Regions from separate parts of the Homo sapiens genome. Here regions 1, 2, 4 and 5 are each reported to be linked to region 3. The links are microRNA targets in miRTarBase. Many come from high-throughput screens and were not tested one by one. Region 3 holds a microRNA gene; each other region holds the end of a gene's coding sequence.
The links. Region 3 holds the annotated microRNA hsa-miR-5583-3p (GAAUAUGGGUAUAUUAGUUUGG, at 1,899-1,920, opposite strand). A microRNA usually pairs through its seed, bases 2 to 8, with sites in the 3' UTR of a target mRNA and lowers its output. Matches are read on the target gene's strand: a 7mer-m8 pairs with bases 2 to 8, a 7mer-A1 pairs with bases 2 to 7 and ends in A, and an 8mer does both.

Region 1: the mRNA of WDR13 is a reported target of hsa-miR-5583-3p. Seed matches in the 3' UTR shown: 7mer-m8 at 1,427-1,433.
Region 2: miRTarBase lists CD302 as a target of hsa-miR-5583-3p. Seed matches in the 3' UTR shown: 7mer-A1 at 1,230-1,236 and 7mer-m8 at 2,962-2,968.
Region 4: miRTarBase lists ZBTB38 as a target of hsa-miR-5583-3p. Seed matches in the 3' UTR shown: 7mer-A1 at 3,590-3,596.
Region 5: the mRNA of RIF1 is a reported target of hsa-miR-5583-3p. Seed matches in the 3' UTR shown: 7mer-m8 at 1,563-1,569.

Annotation. Positions count from the first base shown.
Region 1 is chrX:48,604,296-48,609,402 of GRCh38, reverse strand. It overlaps WDR13 (WD repeat domain 13), which reads right to left. Exons shown (of 10, transcript NM_001347217.2): 9 at 5,013-5,107; 10 at 534-4,555. The coding sequence ends at 4,371. Among named protein-coding and RNA genes, the nearest start is that of WDR13, 9.4 kb to the right of the region's middle. RefSeq lists a silencer at 2,968-3,262.
Region 2 is chr2:159,767,331-159,772,423 of GRCh38, reverse strand. CD302 (CD302 molecule) reads left to right here. Exons shown (of 6, transcript NM_014880.5): 6 at 371-3,796. The coding sequence ends at 573. MARCHF7 (membrane associated ring-CH-type finger 7) reads right to left here. Exons shown (of 12, transcript NM_001282805.2): 12 at 1,397-5,093. The coding sequence ends at 5,082. It overlaps LY75-CD302 (LY75-CD302 readthrough), which reads left to right. Exons shown (of 38, transcript NM_001198760.1): 38 at 371-3,796. The coding sequence ends at 573. Among named protein-coding and RNA genes, the nearest start is that of CD302, 28 kb to the left of the region's middle.
Region 3 is chr18:39,674,821-39,679,927 of GRCh38, forward strand. MIR5583-2 (microRNA 5583-2) reads right to left here and starts at 1,957; the gene lies at 1,899-1,957. The region is part of intron 2 of MIR924HG (MIR924 host gene); the gene reads right to left. It overlaps MIR5583-1 (microRNA 5583-1), which reads left to right and starts at 1,901; the gene lies at 1,901-1,959. It also overlaps the pseudogene RNU6-1242P.
Region 4 is chr3:141,445,352-141,450,458 of GRCh38, reverse strand. ZBTB38 (zinc finger and BTB domain containing 38) reads right to left here. Exons shown (of 6, transcript NM_001376113.1): 6 at 667-5,107. The coding sequence ends at 4,483. It overlaps LOC124906291 (a long non-coding RNA gene), which reads left to right. Exons shown (of 2, transcript XR_007096120.1): 2 at 1-1,820. Among named protein-coding and RNA genes, the nearest start is that of RASA2, 39 kb to the left of the region's middle.
Region 5 is chr2:151,474,819-151,479,924 of GRCh38, forward strand. RIF1 (replication timing regulatory factor 1) reads left to right here. Exons shown (of 36, transcript NM_018151.5): 36 at 39-5,106. The coding sequence ends at 253. Among named protein-coding and RNA genes, the nearest start is that of RIF1, 67 kb to the left of the region's middle.

The sequences.
Region 1 (5,107 bases), not on the chromosome of region 3:
CCAAAGTGCTGGGATTACAGGTGTGAGCCATCGAGCCCAGCCATTTTTTTTTTTTTTTTTTTTTTACACGGAGTCTCGCTCTGTCACCCAGGCTGGAGTGCAGTGGCGCGATCTCAGCTCACTGCAACCTCCGCCTCCCGGGTTCAAGTGATTCTCCTACCTTAGCCTCCCGAGTAGCTGGGACTACAGGCACGTGCCACCACGCCCGGCTAATTTTTTTGTATTTTTAGTAGAGACAGGGTTTCACCGTGTTAGCCAGGATGGTCTCGATCTCCTGACCTCGTGATCCGCCTGCCTTGGCCTCCTAAAGTGCTGGGATTACAGGTGTGAGCCACTGCACCTGGCCCAGAGAGGCTCTTGATGGTAAAGTAGTTGACAAACACACAGGTTCAAAGTCAGACAAAGGGCAGGGAACAGTTAATCGAAGCCTCGATTTGAGGCAAGACCAGAGTGGAATTGATAGTGGAATGATTGACAGAGCTTCAGATCTGATGTGAAACCAGTGATGCTGAACAAGTTAACCGAGGCCCAAATGTGACTGATAACACTATTTTTATTCTTTCTTCATTATTTATTCCCCCTTAGGTGGTGAGTCAAGAAAAGTGCCACCAAGATGAGTTTAAAGTAGAATGTCAAATCTGCCACCTCAAAATTTCACAAGGAGGAAACCCCCAAAATCATGCACAACAATATTCACAATCAATCATCTTGAATCCAGACTCAATAGACAATGTGAAGAGTGTAAACAAAAGAAGAAAGTGTTAGCGAAAAAGGAGGTTCCTCAAAATTATCCTGCCATCCACAGACCTTGGTAGAAACTGGGCATCTGTGTGGTGTTGCACACTGTGCAGAAAAACAGTAACAGAGCAGGCCTCAACTGCGATCCTTGGAAAGGCCTGCTTCAAGGTTGGCCCTTGGGTGGTGTCTAAGAACATAGACTCCAGGAGGGTTCCCACCATTCCCTAAGAGATAAGAATGGCTCACTCGGGCCGGGTGTGGTGGCTCACACCTGTAACGCCAGCACTTTGGTAGGCCAAGGTGAGAGGATCACTTGAGCCCAGGAGTTCAAGGCCAGCCTGGGCAACATGGCAAAACCCATCTCTGCAAAAATCAGCTGGGGTCATGGTGGTGCATGTCTGTGGTCCCAGCTACTTTGGAGGATGAGGCAGCAGGACCGCTTGAGCCTGGGAGGTTGAGGCTGCAGCGAACCATGTTTGAGCCACTGCACTCCAGCCTGGGCAACAAAGTGAGACCCTGTCTCAAAAAAAAAAAAAAAGAAAGAAAGAAAAAAAAGAATGGCTTACTCTACCTAAGCTGTTTGTATAAAAAAGTGGGCCAGGAGCGGTGGCTCATGCCTGTAATCCCAGCACTTTGGGAGGTCGAGGCAGGCGGATCACAAGGTCAAGAGATGGAGACCAGCCTGGCCAATATGGTGAAACCCCGTCTCTACTAAAAATACAAAAATTAGCTGGGCGTGGTGGTGGCAGGCGCCTGTAGTCCCAGCTATTCAGGAAGCTGAGGCAGGAGAATTGCTTGAACCCAGGAGGCGGAGGTTACAGTAAGCCGAGATCACGCCACTGCACTCCAGCCTGGCGACAAAGCGAGACTCCGTCTCAATTAAAAAAAAAAAAAAAAAGGTGGTTTATGCTGAGCCCCTGCTTTCCTTTTGGGAGCCTGGGATTTGGGTAGGTGCCAGGCAGGGGGTGCCTATGTGACCATGCCCCAATAAAAACTTGATACCAGCCAGGTGCTCACGCCTGTAATCCCAGCAGTTTGGGAGGCTGAGGTGGGAGGATCACTTGAGGTCAGGAGTTCAAGATCAGCCTGGCCAACATGGTGAAACCCCATCCCTACTAAAAATACAAAAATTAGCCGAGCTTGCTGGTGCGCGCCTGTAGTTCCAGCTATTCGGGAAGCTGAGGCCCGAGGATCGCTTGAACCCAGGAGGTGGAGGCTGCAGTGAGCCAAGATCATGCCACTGCATTCCAGCCTGGGCGTCAGAGCAAGACCCCCCCCCCCCCGCCAAAAAAAAACCAAAACAACAACAACAACAAAAAAAACCTCTGGGTGCTGAGTCTCTAATTGAGCTTCCTTGGTCAGCAACATTTCGCATGTATTGTCACAACCCATTACTGTGAACCGAGCACATCTTGTGTGACTCCAATGAGAGAGAAGCCCTGGAAACTTGTGCCTGGGTCTCTCTGGGAGTTGGTCCTGCACACCATTTCTTTTTGCTGATTTTGCTCCATATCTTTTTGTTGTAATAAGTCAATCGTAGCCATGAATACAACCACATACTGAGTCTTGGGAGTCCTCCTAGCAAATCACTGGGCTTGGGGCTGGTATTGAGGACCATGACACACACACACATACATGACCTTTACCATGGGAACAATCCAGCTCACTGATGTCCCTATCTCACCACCATGTACCCTGAGGTCTATTAGATGGAAGTGCCAGTTAGAAATGCTTGGGGTGCAAGTAACCACACTGTCAAATAACTGGACTGAACAAACGGGAGATTATTTCCCTCCAACAAGACTGTTGGTGCGAGTTCAGCAGCTCAGCAATGCTGGGCCAAGCTGGAGTCTCTACCACGCTGTGGACTGACCCTAAGGTCCCAAGATGTCAGTCGCAGTTCCAGTCAACGCATATGTGGCAACAAATGGAGCTGAGAAGGAAGGGAGGGGCCGGAGCAAGAGCCTCTTTGCTGCTTCAGGTAACTTTGACATTTTCTGGTGACGCAGGCCACTGATAAGTGATTTTGGTTATTTACCCCCATCAATACTCAAAGCTTTTTCTCCTCTCTTGGGGCTCCCCTCAAATACTTAACATCACTTTTTGGTCTCTGAGCTGTTCCAGGGCTGGAATTTGTACCCTGGATGGGGCTGGGAGGAGACAGGGGTGGTCTGAGGGATGGAGATTCCGCCACACAGCAGGAGGCCCCAGGTCAGCCTTAACTTCCCGTTGCTCCTGCACCAGCTTGGGGCTCCAGGACTCAACACCTCTGCTCCCTGCTTTTAATAAACAACACAATGCACAGAAGGGTTGGGAATATCGCCCCCTGAGGAGGCAGCAGAGTCCTGCAGCCTAACATAGTGAACCCCCTGGGGGTCCGACCCAACATTCCCCCGCCAACTCCTCCACTGTCACTACCCTGGTGCAAGTCCCCATCACTGCGCTCAGAGGGGTCTCCTGCTGGGTCCCCTGCTTCTACCCCCACCCCCAATCTGTCCCCTTCAGCAGCCAGAGGGAGCCTCTATGACCAAGTCAGATCATGTTCCTCCTCTGCTTGACACCTTCTGGTCACCCCCACTCAGAAAAAAAGCCAAAGTCCTAACTGTGGCCCATGAAGCATCTGGCCTGTCTGACCTCATGTACTGTCACACTCTGGTCCAGCAAGACTCTGGCATACACAATGATCCTTCTGGAGCGCTCCAGCCTCAGTGCCTTTAGGCTGGCTTTCTCTCTGCCTGGAATGTTCTCCCCCTACACTATGACTCCCACTCACTTCATTCAGGTCTTTAAATGTCACCCTGAGCCAGGCGTGGTGGTTCATGCCTGTAATCCCAGCACTTTGGGAGGCTGAGGCGAGTGGATCGCTTGAGCCCAGGAGTTCAAGACCAGCCTGAGCAACATGGCGAGACCCCGTCTCTACTAAAAATACAAAAATTACCCGAGTGTGGTGGCACACACCTGTAGTCCCAGCTACTTGGGAGGCTTAAGTGAGGATCACTTGAGCCCTGGAGGTTGAGGCTGCAGTGAGCTATGGTCATGCCACTGCATTCCAACCTGGGTGACAGAGTGAGACCCTGTCTCAAAAACAAAAAAGTCACCCTGTCAGGATCATCTTCCCTGATGCTGTCACCATAAAGAGCCCACTCCCCCAACTTCTGCAGCTCTGTCTCCCATCCTTGCTTTATTTTCTTCATACCACTCATCATTAGCTGGCCTGTTCCATGTTTTTATCTACTGTCTCCGCTATGATGCAAGCCCAATGAAGGCAGGCATTTCCATCAGTTTAGGTCAGAGCAGTATCCCCAGTGCCTAGAACAGTTCCTGGCACACGGTCAGGGCTCACTAATGTCTATCGAATGCATAAGTGTGTAAAACAGTTAAGGCAGGGCCTGTAACCCAGCAGACATTCAATCAATGCTTGTGGAATGAATGAATCCGTCGATGCATGAATGCACAAATGAGTCAATGAACCCCGTTCCACCGTGTTCCTGGAGCTGCCCGCTGCCCTCTGCCCTGTCCGTCCCCGGCAGAGCTGGGAGCCGGCCCTCAGCATGACCACCGAAACTTTATTTACAACACGAGGCTGGAGTAAGAGGGGTGGGATGGAGGACAGCAGCAGGGCCGACAGGACCCTACTTCTGCTCCCGCCTCCAGACGATGACCATGCCGCTGGCGTCACTGGAGGCCAGTAGGCTCTCGTCGCAGTTGAAGCTGACATCAAGCACAGGTGCACTGTGGCCCTGCAGCTTGTTGACAGCAGCCTTGGCCGCCCGCTCCACATCAAAGAAGTGCACGCACATGTCCTCACTGCCCGTCACTGTCGGGGTGAGAGGGAGAGGCCATCGGGAGGCGCCTGGGGTGCCCCTGGTGGGAAGTCCCTGAGGTGTCTGAGGTGTTGAAGGGTGTATGTCCGAGGTGTGAGGTCCTAGCATGGCTTGGGGAGGTTTGAGGGGGCCCCATCCCTAGATGGGAGGTCACCTGGCTGTTTTGGTACTGTGTGCAGAATGCGAGGTCTCTGGGCTGTTTGGGGAGTTAGTGCGTTCAAAGTGTGAGTTTTCATCACTTCTCGGCCTTTTGGCCGAGATCAAGTGCAAACTGTGAGTTCTCTGAGCTGTTTGGAGCTGTGAGTTCCACAGTGAGGCTGTTGGGGCAGGAGGGGTCATGAGGTCCAGGAAGTCAGGGCATCGGTGTCGTGATGTCTGAGCCAGGTTGGCACCAGCCCTGGTTCCTGCCCCTCCCCAGCCACCCAGATCCCCTGTCCCTACAGGACTCACCCACGCAGGCCCCCTGGCGGAAGGACATGAGGGGACAGAAGATGCTGCGCACAGGATGTGAGCTCTGCTCGATGGGGAAGCTTCTCTTCAGCTGC
Region 2 (5,093 bases), not on the chromosome of region 3:
TAATGTAACACATTATCTAAATACTAGAATTCCTAAAGGGAACAGTAGGTCTGAATTTGTAGTCTTAGATCAGAAAGTAAAGCGAAGGAAGACAAACTGGAGCATGGTATATACTTGCGTGATTTCCACTATGGGGTCTTCAGTAGAGTGGAGAAGTGCACAACTTCCTAGAAAATTTGAGTACTATTCTTCAGGCTAAGAAATATAAATCTTGTTAGTAACAAATGCGAAATTTTTGGTTTTCTCATCAGTGTGGGAAATTCTCAACACAGAGAAATGTTTACACAAAACTACAGTTGTGCTCATCAAAATATACTTGCAACTTGTGTACCCTAATTTCCCAAATACTCTTTTGTCTTTTCCTTTTCAGATAACCACATTTTAATATCAGCATTGGTGATTGCTAGCACGGTAATTTTGACAGTTTTGGGAGCAATCATTTGGTTCCTGTACAAAAAACATTCTGATTCTCGTTTCACCACAGTTTTTTCAACCGCACCCCAATCACCTTATAATGAAGACTGTGTTTTGGTAGTTGGAGAAGAAAATGAATATCCTGTTCAATTTGACTAAGTTTTTGGTAATCTTGCACTAAGACATCAACAAAATGCCCTGGCAGAGATAACTTGGGAAAGATTTTAATATAAAACTTGACATTGGATATTAGAGCTTTAATGGTATTCCTTATTCCAGTAACATTTTTATGTACTCATCTGCTGTGAAAAGTCTTTAGGTTCATTAAAAAAACAGGTTTTAGAAATGATCTTAGATCTAATATAGTGATTTTAAGCATCCCGTCAAAGGCAGAATCTGTCACTTGAATGAAGGAAAGCTTAAAGCCCAAGCAGATAAAAATAAAAGCCCAGCCTATTTGTCTTGCCTGCTGTATCTTCCCTATTTAGTTGACCCACTTTAGTTTATATGTTTATTAGTAAACATGAAATGGGGAATAAGTGATTTTAAGTACATCCCATACATTTAAATATCTTTGATAATTGTTATTTTTTTGGCAGATAATTCCTCTAGAATGTGTATCTTTTTATGATTTAGATGAAGAAAATTTTACAACTTTTAACACCCCACACCAATTTTAGTTTCATTACTTTTACACACACCATTTTATCACAAATGACTCAAGTTTTAATGAATGTTTATAAATTATTTGAAACAAAATATGATCGCTGTGTCCAGGATGGCATAGAGAAAGCTGGCAATTAGGTTAACACTTACATATTATAGTGCCCCTTTAAGGATTTCTCTCTTGCCACCATACCTTTTGTACTTTCCCCTATACAAGATGTATCTCATTCTCCTCAAGCATTTATAAATTTTTCCTTCAATGACATGAAAACTGTGCAAGCAAAAACCGAAGAAAAACACTTAAGTACAACTGTAGTGACAGTGATCAAAGTTTTCAGTGCATTTATTGTACATTTTAAGAAAAAGGTGAAAATCATTTGGGGAGTAAAAAAATGAAAAAGCTGAAACGAGTAATTTTCCTCACCATCAATAAACCAAAAACAGGAAAGATAAAGAATGTATAAATTTCACGTAAATTAGTCACGTATCACTTATCAATGGGGATACGTTCTAAGAAATGCATAGTTAGGGAATCTTGTGTGAAAATCAGCTTGTATTTACACAAACCCAGATGGTAGAGCCTATTTTGTCCCAAACCTACACAGCATGTTACTGTGCTGAATACTGCAGACAATTGTAACACAATATTTGTGTATCTAAATATAGAAAAGGTACAGTAAAAATATGGTCTACTAAGGAAACACTGTTCTATATGTGGTCCATTACTGACTGAAGTATACTGTCTAGAAGTCTGAGGCTCAAAGAAAAGTAATCCCTCTTCTGAATCCACACCCCATCAATTATCTTACTTTCTTCTGGGGAGATAGATAGATATACTATCTCACTAGCTTGACTAATGGCAACAAAGTTCCAGCTTGTGTAGTCTCTTTTTATTGACCACATGAATCGAAAACACTCATCACAATTAATGGCACTATCATTAATGAGACATGAGTAACTAAAAAGTGATAGAAAACTATTAACAGTGCGGCTACATGGTACTGAAAATGCAGGCATTACACCAGCTGTTACACAAGCACAAGCATGCTCTGTAAGAGCTTTACATTTCTGAGATTTTGTATAGTGATTGAGATGTCTATTTTATTATTGATAGACTATTACTAATGTCAATATTGAACACTACCCTGGAATTCCTGCCTGGTTTTCCTACCCAAATTGTACCACTCCTTGAAGAACTACAGGCACAGTAAAAAAAATATGGCGTATTATGTGAACTAAAAGAGTTCTAAAGGAGTTCTTAAAGGAGTGGTAGAATTTGGGTAGGAAAGTGATTAAGTCCAACTTAAAACCAACAGTCTCAAACGTCTACAACTACAATGTCCAATGAGCCACTAGCCACATGAGGCTATTTAAGTAAATTTAGTTTAAAATCCAGTTTTCGAATTACATTAGCCACATTGTCAAGTGTTCAAATCACAGGTGGTTAGTGGCTACTGTACTGGGCAACATACATTATAGAACATTTTCATTATAGGAAGTTTTATTGGGCAGTGCTGCTCTTAAATCCTACCTTCCACTCAACTCCCATACAACTTTCTTTTGTACATTTTGATACTTTCTACCTAATGGCAGCTCTTCCAAAATAGCTGCTTTAAACTCTGATTTAATTTTCAATATTTGGTTTCATTTTTCAACAGGCCAAGAGGCCTCTGGTAATGAAGTGCTATATATATATATATGATGGAGTCTCACTGTGCTGCCCAGGCTACAGTGCAGTGGCTCGATCTTGGCTCTCTCCAATCTCCGCCTTGCAGGTTTTCAAGCAATTCTCCTGCCTCAGCCTCCTTAGTAGCTGGGACCACAGACATCTGTCACCACACCCAGCTAACTTTTTGTATTTTTGGTAGAGACGGGGTTTCGCCATATTGACTGGGCTGGTCTCAAACTCCTGACCTCAAGTGATCCACCCACCTTGGTCTCCCAAAGTGCTGGGATTACATGCGTGAGCCACCACACTTGGCCTACATTTTTTCTTTATATACCAGAACATCTATAACAGGCACCTTATCTACTCATTAGTGAAGAGATAATTGGATTACACAGGCAGGCTTGTTTACTACATCCAGAATGTAGAAACTGCTTTCTTCAACATCTTGGTTCTAGCTAGTAATAACAATATAATTCTTTGGCAGATATTCAGAATAACATTTTAAACTACATTTTCTTAGAAAATTGCATTCTTGTAGTGAGCAGTGTATGGTCTCTTTTGTTCAGAATTTAAAACTGATAACCAATGAAAGCCTTTTCTCTTATTCCTCTACCGTCATTTACATGATAATCTGAAGCTAATATGACAATATTTAAATACTAAGTGGTACTAGGGAACTACAAGAATACTGTAAAGCTTAAGCCATTGTTATCACTGTCATTTAGCATTTAATAACAAAACTATACAGAATTATGTGCATACCAATGAATGTTTTGTACCATCTAGTTAAATTTTTTAAATAAAGTTTTATGGGTTAAGCAGAAGACAACTGTCATACTGAATTTTATTAAAAGTATATATACTTCAAATTCAAAGCATCCCTTAGGACCCACAGAATATATTAAAACTACCACCCTTAAATTTTATATTTTTGCTTTAAGACAGACAATGCAAAGGTAACTGGCAAGAGGTGAGCAAATGTTTTAGAACATTTATATTATTGCTTAAAATGAGATTTGAAATTGTAATAAAATTCTTGGTTATGAAGTCTGATGTCTTCTTTGAGCACCAGTTTAAAAGGAAACATTTCAAACAGTAAAATAAATCAGTGTGTACTTTATTTTGAGCCAATGTTTTACATAAGACCAACAAACTAAGTGTGGGCAAACTGTTCAATCACTTTTGAGAAATTACATGGTTCCTATTTAGGTTTGAAAAAGTAGTTTGTTGCCATAACATCAGACCTTAAGGTGTTTTAAAGTGTATCCTAAGGGTACTGACAGAAGAAAAATACAGTGTTATGGAAGTATACACAACTCATGACCACACAGTATAGATCCATTCATGGTGAATAATGTTCATCTGTTCTCCAAAGGTAGTGAAAAATATTAAGTCATCAAATAAATGCTCAGAATTACCAAGGAACAGTTAAAAAGGACCAGGATCCAAACAGGTTATTTATATATTTATCTATAAACAAGTGACAACACTAAAAAACACATTGAAAACCAGTGTTTTAAACTCTGAATGTGGGATTTAAAAATATTCCATTAACTTGAGATTGCAATAATTTTTTTAAACCAAATAGCATTTGACTGGCAAGTCTCATATAATTTACAGCTGTAATATTCCTAAAAGGAATATCTACATACTATAGCCTATCAAATATAATCTGCATTTTGCAAATCAATACAAAAATCTATCCATCATTTATACATTTTATATTTATATACTTTTTAAAAATTAGATTTTATTGCTAGGTGAATTTGGAATTCAAATTAAATTTGGAAACTTAATAATGCTCTTCTCATAACCTTCTCCCCATTCTTTTTTTAATTTTTAAACACTGGAAGCAAATGATTATCAAAATGAGACTGCAACTTAAGGCATTTTAAAAGAAAAAATAATTAGGTGCCATATAGCATTTTATTTCAAAAGTATATTTTGTCCCACTTTTCTCACTAGCAAGAGTAAAACACAAACCTTTTTTCATAAATATGACTACAGTAATCATAACACAAAAAAGGGTTGATAGGCATTGCTTAGATATTTAAAACAAGGGTAATACTTTCCCACTCACCTAAAAGAAAAAACCTTTTTGATTACCAGTTTATAAACATCGGATTTGCTATGTTAAAAAGTCCAGCAGAATTTTAATTCAGCAACACTGGAGAATGAATATATATATACAGGCATACATGTGTATGTATATATTCATTTTATATATAGTCAATGTATTTATTAGGCATTCCCCCACAAAAGTAATTTATATTTAATTGCCATTTTTAATAAACACTTATGTTCACAGATCATCCATCTGTCTTATATGAAGTTAGGCAATATC
Region 3 (5,107 bases):
AAAATAAGTGGCCTATTTTAAATACTGGCCAAAGCCTTTTTTATAATTCTTAAAAAAAAATAAACTCTCATGACATTAAATTTCTTAAAATCTACACATAAAAGTAGTGACTGCTCTCTCATATATAAATATAAAACTCCCAGCATGTAAGTGCATTAGCTAAAATAAGTATTTGATCCTTTCAACCAAAGCCCATTTTCTCTCCCACCCAAAAACCCTTGAAGTGTGAGTATTACACTACTTTCAGATTTCTATGTAGGCAGGGGATAAATAGTCTGCTTCTGTAATTAATAACTATTAAAGCTGTTTGACTGATCATATCTTTGGGTTCCTGAAATCTCTTCTGTGCAGGTGTGCGTTAATGGAATTCATTAAATTCATATATTTCAACAGATAGTAATTTACGATCTTTTATAAGATCTGTCAGGAGCCGCAGCAGGAGATACAGGACTGTCTCAGGGCATTATAGAGCAAACCGGGCTCCCTCCCTCAGAAATGGCTCGCCTTTGAGTACTAAATACGAATGTCAGTGCAATAGGTAGTCACATTATGTGTGTTCTATGACATTTGCTATCTGAAAATATGTAGGATAAGCTTTTCATCACTGGCGAAACCCTGAACAGGGCTGAATGATTTTCAGAGACACTGAAGGAAAAATGTGTGGGAGTTCTAACCACTTTATATTTGCCATAAAAAAGGAGAACTTGGGAACAGATCAAGGTTCTGAGAAAGTAATGAGTTTTCCCAGGGATGAGTCATCCTCCCAAGCTCACTAAATGGGGCAGCCTCTCCATTCTGACCAGTGTTTTCAAGGGAAACAGAAATCAGCCTTGACTTCTGTCATGTCCCACCCTCGGCTCAGCCCAAAGAGAACTGCTGTCCTGTCAGAGATGGGGTGTCCCTTCGGCATGGCCAAGTTTCTGAGTGGGCAAAGCCATCAGCCACTTTCTTCAGGAGATCCCAGGATGGCAGGGCCACATTTAGGAGGTGAAATGCTACTTGAGGGACTTTCATAATTAATTTAAAACTGAAAACAAGCCTGAGAGAAACAGCAAAGGTATTATGTAATTATCAGCTAACATCTAAGGGGATGGTTAGAGGTGAATGAGAGGCAATGCGAGGTAGGAAGTTGTCCTGAGCCACCAGGAACAGGATGAAGAGAATGAGTTGGGAAAATTAGAAAGTAACAACCTTAAAAGTTCCCTTTCATATTTTATAAATGGAGTAAAATGTTCTTCAGTGGTTTTGAAAGGGGAAGAGGGTTGAGTTGAGGTCAAAGCCGATATTGCAATGAATGCTCCTGTTTATGCAATGCTCTTACCATTCAAAGAATTCTTAAAACAGTTAGACGAGGTTGGCAGGCCCCCTTTTAAAGGAGATAACTGAGCCCTATCCCTATTCCGAAGCTAATTTATGCTTCCAGGGTACAGTGGTCGTTTTCTGAGCTTATCCTATTCTGGAGTTTCCTAAGGAAATACAGACAGAGGCATCTGCTTTCAGGGACCATCTAAAAAATCAGCAATACCAGGACCACCAGCCAGATCCAAAATGTGAGAATGTGAGAGCCCTCACCAGGTAGGGGGGTATGTTTTCTTTTATTTTGTTTTGCTTGTCTTTGGTCAAAAAAATATATTTTTAATGTATTATATGGGCATATATACACATATGTATATTATATATATATATAATGTGTATATATCTTATGGACAATATTTACTACATGGTTAATTAGAGAAGTCATTTACCTTTTAAAATGCTTCATTTTCTAAACCAACCTACCATAGAGATATCTATAGATTATGCACCCCAACACATTTCTAGTCTAAATCATTAAACATGAGACCCTTCGAAATATAACTTTTGCACAAATATGGAATAGATCTATGACGTGGAGCTAACCAAACTAATATACCCATATTCTGGCTAGGTGATCATCAGAATATGGGTATATTAGTTTGGTTAGCTCTACATTGTAGATCTATTCCATAGATCCTTCTGTTTTTTGAATTGTATATTATCTTTTAAATTGAGGTATAATTTACATCCAATAAAATACAGTGTACAGTTCAATTAAGTATATAGTTCAATGAATTTTGAGAAATGTATACACCCACATAATAAGTCCCCAATGAAGATACATAATGTATTCATCACCCTAGAGCATTCCCTTCCCACCCTTTACCACTATATCCCACTCCATACCATCTCTGAGGCAACTGCTGTTTTGATTTCTGTAATGTCATATAAAGAGAACCATAAAGTATGTTCTGTGTTCTCTTTTATGTCTGGCTTCCTTCACACAACATAACATTTCTGAATCCATGTTAGGCTATGTATCAGTAGCTTGTTCCTTTTTTTTATTAGAGAGTACATATTGCATCGTCATACCACAACTTGGAACTATTCACTGGTTCATGAATATTTGTAATTTTTTTATGTTTGGTTATGAACAAAACTGCAATAAACATTCTTATATATAAATGTGTTTGTGGGCATGTTTTCATTTCTCTTGTGTAAATACATAAGACAGGAATCTCTAGGCCATATGATAACTATAGGTTTAATTTTATAAGAAACTGCCAAATTATTGTCCAAAGTGGTTGTACCATTTTTAAATGGACACTTAATAGTTATATATGTTTATGGTGTACAGAGAGATATTTTGATATATACAATGTGTAATGATCAAATTAGAGTAATTAGCCTATCCCCCACCTAAAACATTTATCTTTTCTTGGTGTTGGGAACACTCAAAATCCTCTCTTCTAACTATTAAAAATATATATACAAAAGAAATTAGCCAGGCATGGCAGCATGTGCCTGTAGTCCCAGCTACTCAGGAGGCCGAGGCAGAAGAATTGCTTGAACCTGGGAGGCGGATGTTGCAGGAGTCGAGATTGCGCCACTGCATTCCAGCCTGGGTGACAGAGTGAGACTCCGTCTCTACAGTAAAAAAAAAAAAAAAAAAAAAAAAAAAAAAAATATATATATATATATAATAAATTGTTAGTCACCCTACCATGTTTTAGAAGACTAGAACTTATTTCCCCTGTCTAGCTGAAATTTTGTTTCCATTAACCAACCTCTCCATATCTCCTGACCCAACCCTTCCTAGCTTTTAATAACCATCATTCTAGACTCTGGGCCAGGAGCAGTGGCTCATGCCTGTAATCCCAGCACTTTGGGAGGCCGAGGCAGGTGGATCACAAGGTAAGGAGTTCGAGACCAGCCTGGCCAGCATGATGAAACCCCATCTCTACTAAAAATATGAAAATTAGCCAGATGTGGTGGTGCTTGCCTGTAATCCCAGCTACCCGGGAGGCTGAGGCAGGAGAACTGCTTGAACCCAGGAGGCGGAGGTTGCAGTGAGCTGAGATTGCACCACTGCACTCCAGCCTGGGTGACAGAGTGAGACTCTGTCTCAAAAAATAAATAAATAAATAAATAACCATTATTCTATACTCTACTTCTATGAAACCAACTTTTTAAGCTTCTGTTTGTGAGGGAAAACATGTGATATTTACCTTTCTGTGCCTGAATTATTTTACTTAACATAATATCTTCCATGCTCATCCATATTGCTGCAAATGACTGAATTTCATTCTTTTGTATGACTAGTATTCCATTGTGTACATATACCTCATTTTCTTTATCTATTCATCTGCTGATGAACACTTAGTTTGATTCCATATCTTGGCTAAAACTATGGAATACTTCACAAATTTCTGTGTCATCCTTGGACAGGGGCCATACTAATCTTTTCTGTATTTTTTTTTTTTTTTTGAGATGGTGTCTTACACTGTTGCCCAGGCTGGAGTGCAGTGGCGCAGTCTTGGCTCACTACAACCTCTGCCTCCCGGGTACAAGCGATTCTCCTGCCTCAGCCTCCTGAGTAGCTGGGATTACAGGTACCCACCACCACACCGGCTAATTTTTGTATTTTTAGTAGAGATGGGGTTTCACGATGTTGGTCAGGTCGGTCTTGAACTCCTGACCTCGTGATCCACCCGCCTCAGCCTCCCAAAGTGCTGGGATTACAGGCCTGAGCCACTGTGCCCAGCCTTCTGTATTATTTTCAGTATATGTGCTGCTGAAGTGAGCACTAACCTTTTTAATGCCTTCATTATATTTTCAAATACTTCTAGGAATTAGTATTACAGGCAAGATTAATCAGTGTTAACTACTGATATTAGAATAATGATTCAATTTAAATCTTTCAAATAGTAATTTGTCAAATAAATATTCAGGATATCTTGTAATAGCTAAGTTTACAAAGAAAAGTAAGACATAGTCCTTGCTCTTGAGAAACTTATGATGTATTAAGAAAAACTAGAAGCCAATATGGTAAACGATAATGAATGTGCATAAACCAGTGTGGGGATATAAGGCAGTTACAAAGATCTTCACAAGGCTCAGGCTGGGCTTCAGATTCTTGAGGACATTTGAGCCTTGAAGAGGTCTTTCAGTCACTCAACATGTATTCCTTAGGTGCCAATTATGTTCAGATGCTCAGTAAATGGAATTGCATTTTGTAAGGAGGGAGACTCAAGGTCAAAGCAGGAAGATTGTATCCAATCTGGAGCCAGCAAATTGACAGGGAGAGAGAAGGGAATTAATAATTACTTCGCACCTATTGTCTACTGGGTGCTTAATCTCTCAGCAGGCCTAGTTCAAGATTTTTGTTCCCACATTACAGACGACAAACCTGAGTTTCAGAGAGGTTACTCTGCTTGCCCAGGTTCATAGAGCATGCATGACGCAGAACTGGAGTGTGAATGCATCTGGTGTCCTTGCAGAGTCCACTCCCAGGGCAGCTGCCTTTTTGCACAGGCATAGAAACAGAATAAAAGAAGATGAAGAGAGAATGAGGGAGGCACCAATGGCAATGTGATTTTAGTGGCTGAGGTTACATTATGCTTTAGCTAGAAATGGAAGCCACAGGGGCCTTGAGACAGAAAGTAAAGAGCTTTGGCTTTAAAATCAGAATTGCCTGAGTTCATATCCCGACTCATTCACTGGGTAGCTTGACCATTGTTGATTATAAGCTTAATCAGAGGTCATCAGGGATAATAATATCCATTGCATCACTGTATACCAACATCCAGTG
Region 4 (5,107 bases), not on the chromosome of region 3:
GCTAAAGTTTTGTATTTTTAGTAGAGACGGGGTTTCACCATGTTGGCCAGCCCATTCCTGAACTCCCGCCTCGGCCTCCAACGTGCTGGGATTACAGTTGTGAGCCACCACGCCCGGCCACATTATTACATCTTTAAAATGTCTGTTTACCAGTTTCTCTAACTGGAATAAAATACTTTCACCTATAATTACATACAAGTCATATATTTTAAAATTATTGCAAAAAAGTGTTTGATTTTCCACAAAAACATTCTAAATAGAATGTTTTAGATGTTACTAATGAAATAATAAAATATAACATTTCTAACTAGTTCTTCATTCGTTGTCTAAATTTAGAGTGAATAGTTCTAAATTGCACACCCAGCCAACTTTCTTGCTCACTGACCATCTTGCTTGAGGAACTGGGTTAGGATGTACAAACTAGGGAGGGAGTAAAGGAGGCTTCTCTCTCCAGAAGAGAAATCAATAGCTGGTCAGGATTTGGGGAGGGCGAGGGGGATGCATTCTCAGATTTGGAGGAAACTGAAGTGGAAGAGCTGTTGCTTCTGTAAAAATAAACTGATAAGAGACAGATGGGAGTGCAACTAAATCAATCAGTAGGTGATGAGAAAAGATGAGTAGCAAGAATGAAAGTATCCGAAGTAATGGAAAAAAATATACTAACACTTTTGTTTTATGCTTTTACTTTCCCAATTGTTACAGATGCTTTCAATATTAAATCTGTTGTTCTTGTACATAATGAAGTTAGTTTTAGCAGATAACAGTTATCAAATTTTTGGTGAATCTGGTTTGGATTGCCCTTCCAATACAAAATTGATGCTACTGGCCAGCCACCGGTAGGCCTGGCAGTAATTTTCTCTGTGTTGGTGATGGACTGTGCTGCCTGAGCCACCGACATCCCCTCTCACATTGCCCACTGGGACAAACTGCAGGCATTTGCAAGATAGTTAGTTAGCTAAGTTTAGGAGTAGAGTCTGTGACGACGGAACGTATTTTTTTCTTTGTGTGAAAATTACCAGCTTATAATGCTATTACAATTTTACTCCATATCCTTAAAAAAGTGCACAAATTTTACTGATTTTATAGGGCAATCTCCTGAGATATAAGGGAAGCCCAATTCAGGGGAAGCTGAACCTGACACAGCCTCCTTTAATCCTGTTCCAGGGCAGTCACTAACTGCCATCCTAAAGCTGCATTACTTTATCATATCTCCTTTCCTCATACTCTGTTCAGTTTCTATAAATGATTTTTCTCTACAGTGTTGAGAAGGAACAAAAACATGGGCTTTGGAGTCAGGCAGACCTAGGTTAGCATCCTGGCTTTGTCTGGTTGTGAGACCTTCTCAAAGTCACTATAAAACGAGGATAATGAGGTCGAATTCTGGTGCGTGTGTGTTAATGAAATAGCCTATGTAAAGACATTGCCCAGTGCCTGGTACTCAATAAATGTAATTTGTTTCCCACGGATGAGTGGAGCAGAATGCTTCCTGGAGAGCATTTCATTCTCTGATTTATCATTATAAGATCAGGCCTATCCAAAACACTCAATCATCAGAAGACTTCAATCTCTTTTATTCTGCTTTTTTCCTAATGTCATAATCCATTTGACTCCTAAGCATGTAAGTAGGTACCACGGAATGTAAACAAGTAAGGAAACAGAAATAAACTGAATAATACGTGGAAACAAAGCTGTGACTCACACAGATGAAATAGCTGCACAAAAGAAATAACATGAAAACATTTAAAAAGAGACTTAATGTAGGAATAAGCTATTTTAATCAAGCAAAAACAAATTTATATCCATTATTTCTAAAAATAAAATTAGACTTTTCCAATCCTTAACATCTGCATTTAATAATATCTTCTAACCAAAATACAGATGCTAAAACAGCAAGTTACATTATATCTTGTACAGCATACAGTATGTTCACTGTTTACACTTACTTTAATTCTAGTTGGTCATGTACTCAATGCATACTTAAACATCACTCAATAAAATTTTCACAATTAACAAAAAAATGTGACAAGGCTGTCTTAAAACGGCTCTGCTATAAATTGTATAGAATATACAGAATTACAAAGTCAAGTATTTTTTTATCAAAATATACACCCCTCCCTGAAACTAACACAAGCTATCAACATTTTAAATGAATACAATTATAGAAAATATTTGCAAAATTATTTTTTCATGTATAAATATTCTGCCATATTTACTTTGGTCTAGAATTATCAGCATACAAGTCCACTTAAAAAATATCCACATATAAGGGCTGGGAGAGAGACATCACTACAGGTAATTTTATATTTGGGGTTAACTCAAATCAAAATGACTAGAATATACAGTAAATGTCTTTGATTAATATTATTAACTGATAAAACAAATTAGTGGATCATAGGATTGCTTATTCAATATTCTAATTATCAATTCAAAAATGATTTTCGTAAGCCCTTTGTGACTATCTCTTTAATAAAACCCAAATGAATAGTGTAGGGTGTACATATATACAATGTATAAAATAAAGTTGAATTTGCTTGCATTTTCCCATTTTTCTCTACTTATATAATACTGTATGTAAGTGAAAGTAGATGAACAAAAGATAAATGCAGATACAATAGTGGGGTTACTTAACAGCAAGGTACTACAGTATTAAAAGGTCAACTTTAATCATGTCCTTTCCTGGGCGTTTAAATGCTTTCTTACCCACCCAAATCCATACTAAGTCTTCTTCATGGAGACATCACACTTGTAGACAGAAACCGGAGTCCTTTGAGCTACTTCTTCACAATGATAACCTTCCAATCTTCGATAACCTTGGGTTTCCATCTGTCAAATCCAATGAACATGAATGACTGCAGGTCACGCTGAAACTGCATTCCGGATTCTGTTCACACTGGTGATCAAAGGGTAGAAATGTTTTCTCTCTCCCTTCTATTCTGGCAGTTTGAAAAAGAATCATGAGTTCCGGCTTTCCAGGAACCTAGTCCACATGATAGAATATGCTGTAGGGCAATTAGATTTGAGGGTAGTGTTGATGGTGTGGGTCAAAGAACATAAAAAAAAAACTTCAGTGGGTTTTTAGCAAGGGGTCTAGATGTCTGCAAATATGAAGACAGAGCATCTGGCTTTGTAGATATATTTCTGAGTCTCATAAGTAAAGGATAGAACCATGTCACTCCACATCCTACCTTCCCACCCCCTAAAAACAAAGCTACTGTTTTAGGCAAGGAAGGCCATCACTTCTTCTTGCCCACTCAAGTCATTAATGGGTGGGGTGGAGGGTGGGGGTTCCTTTGTCCTTTTGCTTTATACTAGTCTGTACTTGTGGGCTGCATAATCTCCAACAAGGCTAGTAATTGTAGGGATTAGGCAGTCACTTTCAAGTGCCTGGGAATTCACTACTGCAGTGTACCTTGCACTAAATCTCTTGGACAGTCCTTCAGTGGAATGGGAGATGGCAGGTTCCACTTGAGCCCTTAAGTCTGTCTGGAATAGACCCCCACATCCATGGCCTTGTGGTGGTTGGAAGACTGCAGAGAGTTTCAGAACAATGTGACCCTCTTTCATTCTCTGAGATGAGGCCATTGCAAAGTAATATGCAGCACAGGTAATCACAGGTAAATTCTGGGAGGGTGTTCCCCCATAGATAAGGCATGACCTATGTTTTCTGTGAATTGAGTAGACCAGTTCTAAGAACAGCTCAGCCATAACTTCAAGGGAACAGCATTCCATCTAAAAGCATTCACATGCTCTTAAATCATATTCAAAATGCTTTCTATTGATTTTTACATCAGTCCTCATTATTTGCAGATCTATTGCTCCTCATAATTCTCTACAGGGGATATGGACAGTTAAAAGTTATAGTGATTTATATATGTATTTTACAAGGTTTGTGTTGCAGAAAAGTAGTTCTACATAATGTATGAATGTCCTACTTTAGGTTACTCATTATGCACATAATTTCAGTTATATTGTTTAAGTATTTCATGTGTATCCATTAATTTAAACAAATTTTAATAGTGCAGAAGCCAGATGGGAATAAAGACCGTCACACAGCTTATTACCACGTAACATATTTACGAAGATGCCATCTTCAGGATATCTGACCCTTATTTTCTCCAGTGACTAAAGACAGTTCAGCAGCCAGTTCTTATTAGCAATTATTAGAAAGTTTTAAACTAGGCTAAAATTAAACTCCTTTTTTCACTGGTAGAAATACCACAGCTAAGAATTTTATTAACTTTCACAAGAAACTTGGGATATTGGAGGAGTCAGCTATTTTGTTTTTGTGCACTTTGCATAAAGTTAATGCTAAAACCCAAAGTAGATATTAGGATCCTTTTTCTGGAATTTTCACAAATGAGTTTTTTTTTTTTTTAATTTCACTCCTTCATGACTGTCACATGGACAAAATGAAACTAAACTTAAATCATAACTAAAAAAACCACCAACTATATTTTTGAAGATTTTTCTAATTCTTGCCACTCAAAGGACAACATTTTCCACACCGGTTTGTATGTTATCCTTTTGGTCATTGTCTTCTGAACCAATGAAATGTTGATTCTCCAAGGGATTTGAGTTTTCGTGGCACACGTCACCTATTTTCTCCTGCTGACTTGGGCTTTTGAATAAGTGTTTCTTTTGGTGCATTCCAAGGGCAGCAGCTGTTTTGCAAATTTTGGGGCACTGGAAGCAGGCATAGCCCTTCCCATTATGCTCCCGAATATGCCTCTGCTCGTGATTCCTTTTGGTGGAGAGATACAAAAATCTCTGAAAGCAGAACTGACAGTGGTAACGCTTTTCTCCAGTATGGATTCTTTCATGGATTTTGAGGGTCTCATTCAAGGTGAATGCCTTGTTGCAATACTGACAGACGAACTCCTTCAAGCCCAGGTGGATGCGTTCATGTTTCTGTAAGTTTCCTTGCACCGAAAAGCACCGTCCGCAGGTCTTGCACTGGTATGGCTTCTCCCCGGTGTGACATCTCATGTGCATTTTGAGTGTGGAAGGGCTCTGGAACTGCTTGGCGCAGAGCTCGCAGGCATATGGCCGAGAAGTAAGATGTCGGTGGGGCCTTCCTTGGTTTCCAGCCCCCACTGCTTTGTCTCCA
Region 5 (5,106 bases), not on the chromosome of region 3:
GGTATAGATTTAATTGTGGTTTTTTTTTTCTCTTTTAGATATAATTGATCCTGTTGCTTTAGAAATTCCATTATCCAAAAACCTTCTGGCACAGATTAGTGCTCTTGCTCTTCAGCTGGATTCAGAAGATCTTCATAATTATTCAGGAAGCCAACTATTTGAAATGCACGAGAAACTAAGTTGTATGGCAAACTCTGTAATAAAAAATCTACAGTCACGTTGGAGATCACCATCCCATGAAAATTCTATTTAGTATTTTCAGAGAAAATTGAAGGTTTTTTTAAACATCACTGGATTTCTTGATTGAGGAAACAAGTTCTGAAATAATAGCACAATTTCAAAGAAGAGACTCTTTGCAAAGTTGATAACATTTCAAACCCTGAAGGACAGTGACTTATTATGTAAGTTCAATTTTGTAAGTTCATTATGTAAGATCCTTTTTTTTTTCATAATATGTATTCTTGGCTGCTATGCGTGGTTTTTCAGGAAATTTAATTATCTTACTGAGATGTGAAAGCAAAACTAGTAACAGAACTTACATTTTATTTCATGCTTTCTTAAACCCGTGCATATTCTGGTGAAACATGTAAAATACTTTAAGTAAAATTGAACATTTTTATTTGAATTTTTGCTGAACTGATAAAGGTGTTTATATTTTTGTTTGTTGGTTTGTTTAATTCATGTTTGTTGGGACTGAGGTTTAGGAAGTTTGTTACTGGTTAAAAACCTCAAATGAAATGCGAAAGAATTTGAATTTTTCCTGCATATGTCAACTTTGGACAGCTTTCAAGAAAAATGAGAAAAGTTTCAACTTCTGGCGGTTAAAATATTAATGCAGAATTTACTAAGATTTTATTCATTTGCATTAGCAAATATTCATGCAGCAGCAGTTGACTGAAAATTTATTCTTATGAGACGTATAGTATTCATTTTTAAATGCATGATTGTACATTATGTATAGACGACAATGTTTTTAATTTATAAATTTCATTCTTTGTTAATTGCATGGGTTTTTCTGCAGCTTATTGTGAATACCTTGGTTCTGTTCAATAGAAACATTTTGTATATATTAAATACTGAAATATCAGTATCGACGGTGGAAGTGCTTCATGGGCTTGCTGCACATATTTGTAGGATACTGTATCTGCAAATGCAACAACAAATAGTTTTGTACTTGGTTAACAGTCTTAGTTAAAACATGAGTTTATTTTCTAAAAGTATCCAGAATAAGTAAAATTATAGAAATAAGAAAATGTTACACAACTTTGCTGTTCATACCCTTACCTTCTTACTACTTTTGGTTTGGAGGAGGGTATCACCACTAGAAAGTGTGCCTCCTTAAGATTTCTTAAAGGAAAGTTAGTTTCAGTATTTCACAGCAAGTTGGACTACAAAATCTAGAGTTGATCTGCTTTTTAAACCTTCATTTAAAAGCAAACTTGGAAGAAATTTGAAACTGATGTTTTTAATATATGTCTGTGTTGCCTAGGTTTTCTTTTTTTAAAGAGGTATGTAATTAAAACCTTTGTAAAATTTGCCAACTAATATTAGTGCCTGACTTCCCATATTTGTTTCATCTTTTTAACTGACAGTATATCTCACTTCTTCTTTGAATAGAATGAGTGAGTGATCTCAGTTTTCACATTTTATTCAGAAGCTAATCCCTACTTAGCAAGGCACACATTCTACAGCAAGTCATAGAAAGTTTAATCCTTGTGCCTCCTTAGCTCTCGTATATTCAGGGATCTCTATAAAAGTTGGTGTCTTTTTTCATCATCATAAATTCATCATAATCACAGATATTTTTGGGTCTAAGATATTCATATACCAAGGATGGTTTTGTAAAGAATTCTGGGATCATTGAATTAAGGATTGTGGCTTGAAGTAACTAAAGAAAAATACTAATTTCCTTAAAAGGAATTATAATTATGATTTACATTTTACATCATTAATTTCCCAAATTATATTTAACCGTAAGGAGGTGCACATGAGTTTTTAGCAAACAGGTATGAATAAGCAGCTATGTATATGTGTTTGGGGCAGAGGGGAGCAGATTACTTTAACACACTTCAGAATTAAAATCAGTTCGTTTCATGACTCTGTGCCTTAACGTTTGTGTGAACTAAACTTGCTGATTGAATGAAATTCTTGGGAAGCCGAACAGTAATAGCAGAAAATGTGACCAAATGAGTATCATGTACTTAAATCACTGAATTTTATATAAGCACAAGTATTAATTTTAAAAACATTATAGTTTAATAAAGCTGCATTTAAAAATATTTGGGAGCAAAGACAAGCATGCTAAATCTTCATTTTGCTATGGCTATAAGCATATATTTTTGGCAACTTATTTGCAATATTCTTGCCTTAAAGTTTCCTGCAAATTTCCCCCTTAGTAATTCCCGAATAGCAAAACATTAATATTCCATGATTAGCTCTACTGTGTTGTCTCACTATTAAAATGGAATTCGTTTTTTCAGATCTTTTCTAATGGTTAATAAAACAAATGTCAGATCATAATAACACTCAAATGTGTCTTAATTGTCTTATGCATATTTAAGAAGAAAAAACTAGTGGCATACAGGATTGTCATGTAGTATCTTTTTTTTTTTTTGAGACACAGTCTTGCTCTGTTGCCTATGCTGGAGTGCAATGGTGCGATCTCGGTTCACTGCAAGCTCTGCCTCCCAGGTTTACACCATTCTCCTGCCTCAGCCTCCCAAGTAGCTGGGACTACAGGTGCCCGCCACCATGCCCGGCTAATTTTTTATATTTTTAGTAGAGAAGGGGTTCACTGTGTTAGCCAGGATGGTCTTGATCTGACCTCGTGATCCGCCTGCCTCGGCCTCCCAAAGTGCTGGGATTACAGGCGTGAGCCACCCCACCTGGCCATTTTCTTTTTTTTTTGAGGTGGAGTTTTCGCCCTTGCTGCCCAGGCTGGAGTGCAGTGGTACGATCTCAGCTCACTGCAACCTCCACCTCCTGGGTTCAAGCGATTCTCCTGCCTCAGCCTCCCAAATAGCTGGGATTACAGGTGCCTGCCACCACCACTGGTTAATTTTTGTATTTTTAGTAGATACGGGGTTTCACCATGTCAGCCAGGCTGGTCTCAAACTTCTGACCTCAGATATCCACCTGCCTCAGCCTCCTAAAATGGTGGCATTACAGGCGTGAGCCACCGCTCCTGGCCCATCATTTCCATATCTATGAAATCTATTTTGGATTTTAGAGTGGATTTAAATTTTCAATATTTCAGTGACCTCATTGTTAAAGCTGCTTTGCCACTTGTACAAGTTTGAAAACCATTGTTGAATCATATGGAGCTTTACTCTAATTCCAAATAGTTAAAGGATGAATCAGGTTAAATAATGCTGTTGGATAATACAGGCAAAAACAGGATTTAAACCCGCACATTAAAAGCATGACTGAAGGCCCGGCAGGTGGATCACTTTGGCCCAGGAGTTCAAAACTGACCTGAACAATGTGGCGAAATCCTGTCTCTACTAAAAATACAAAAACCAGCCAGGCATGTTGGCGCATACTTGTAATCTCAGCTACTCAGGAGGCTGAGACATGAGAATTGCTTGAACCTTTTAGGCGGAGGTTGCAGTGAGCCGAGATCATGCCATTGCGCGACAGAGCAAGTCTCTGTCTCGCAAAAAAAAAAAAAAAGTTTAATTCTAACATTGCCCATGGATTTTTTTTTTTCTGTACAGCTTGAAGATAAGATAGTTAAAGACTCTGTTACAATTTAAACATCATAAAAATGTGAAGAGTAAGTGGTGAGGCAAGAAACAAAATTGGGGGAAATGGTGGGGATCGTGAATATATAAGTGAAGTTTTATTTTTTTAAGGTGTAAAGGAGTGAGAATAGAGTAATTGCTTTTTAAAAAGAAAGTATAAATGGGTTAATTTTTTTCTTCCAACTTTGACTTTAATTCAGTAAGAAAGGCCTAGGTTTCATCTCATATTCTTCATAATTGATTTTCAAGAAGTTAATTTGTCATTCAGCCTAGGAGGCTATAAAACAGCAGTTAGTTGGCATTATTAGACTAAAACTTGGGTGGGGGGAGGAGACTGTTTCCTCATTGCTGCAACCCATGGTCTATCCTATTCCTAAGCCATTAGAAAGACCTTGTACTTTGTATAGAAACATTAGAGTGAGGTTTTGATTTTTAACATAGTACTCTCAAACTTTGATGTGCATATGAACAAGTGGATTCTGATTCAGTAGATCTGCATTGGGCCCCGTGAGTCTTTTTAAACACAGTCCCAGGTGATTCATGCAGATGCCTGTGAACTGCGCTGGTAGATGGGCCTAAGAGGCTTCAGGCTGTGTTTTAGGTTTTGGTAAGCCAGGCAGATTCAAGTCCTTTTATAACTGTCAATTTTGTGAATTGGGGATGCAGACTGGTTTTGAAGGCTTAAAGTTCAAAAATTATAAGAAAGTTAAGAATTTTGCTTAAGAGCCTTTTAAAAATATGGACGATTTATTTTTTAAGTAGGCAGACTAAGAATTTCAAGTTATAAAGAATCTTATTGATAAGGCAAAGTAGACAAAGTATTTTCTCATGAGTATTTGTGGGTTATGTTTTTGTTAATATAAAAGTTGATTTCTAAGTATTAGAATATATTTAGTCTCTAAATAAATCTTGCCTTCTATTATGGATCATCGTTATTAATAAACATGGAAAATCAACACTACCCCTAATATTAATCTGGCAGTTAAATTTAGTAGTGCTATAATGAATAAGTCAGTCTAGCAGATATGCCCTGTCATTATACTGCGGACCTCTGGTCACTTAATTTTCTGTTATATTATGTGGTTGAAAATTCCTGTTTCATCGTAAAGTGAAATTTGAAAGATGGAGTTGAATAATATGATTCTCGAAAAGTGAGTTTTTCTTGGAATTCTGTTAAGGTGTTAGATTTTCCTCACATATTTAAATAATCTGTAAGAACTACCCTGAAAGCACTAAGGAAAATGTAGCCGAAAGTTAAGTAATAGGTTTTAAAAATTTATCAAAATTTATTGATAGTTTGATCTGTAAAACAAATTGGGTTTCGTGCTTTCTGATGTCCAGTTAATAAGTATATTATGTGCCA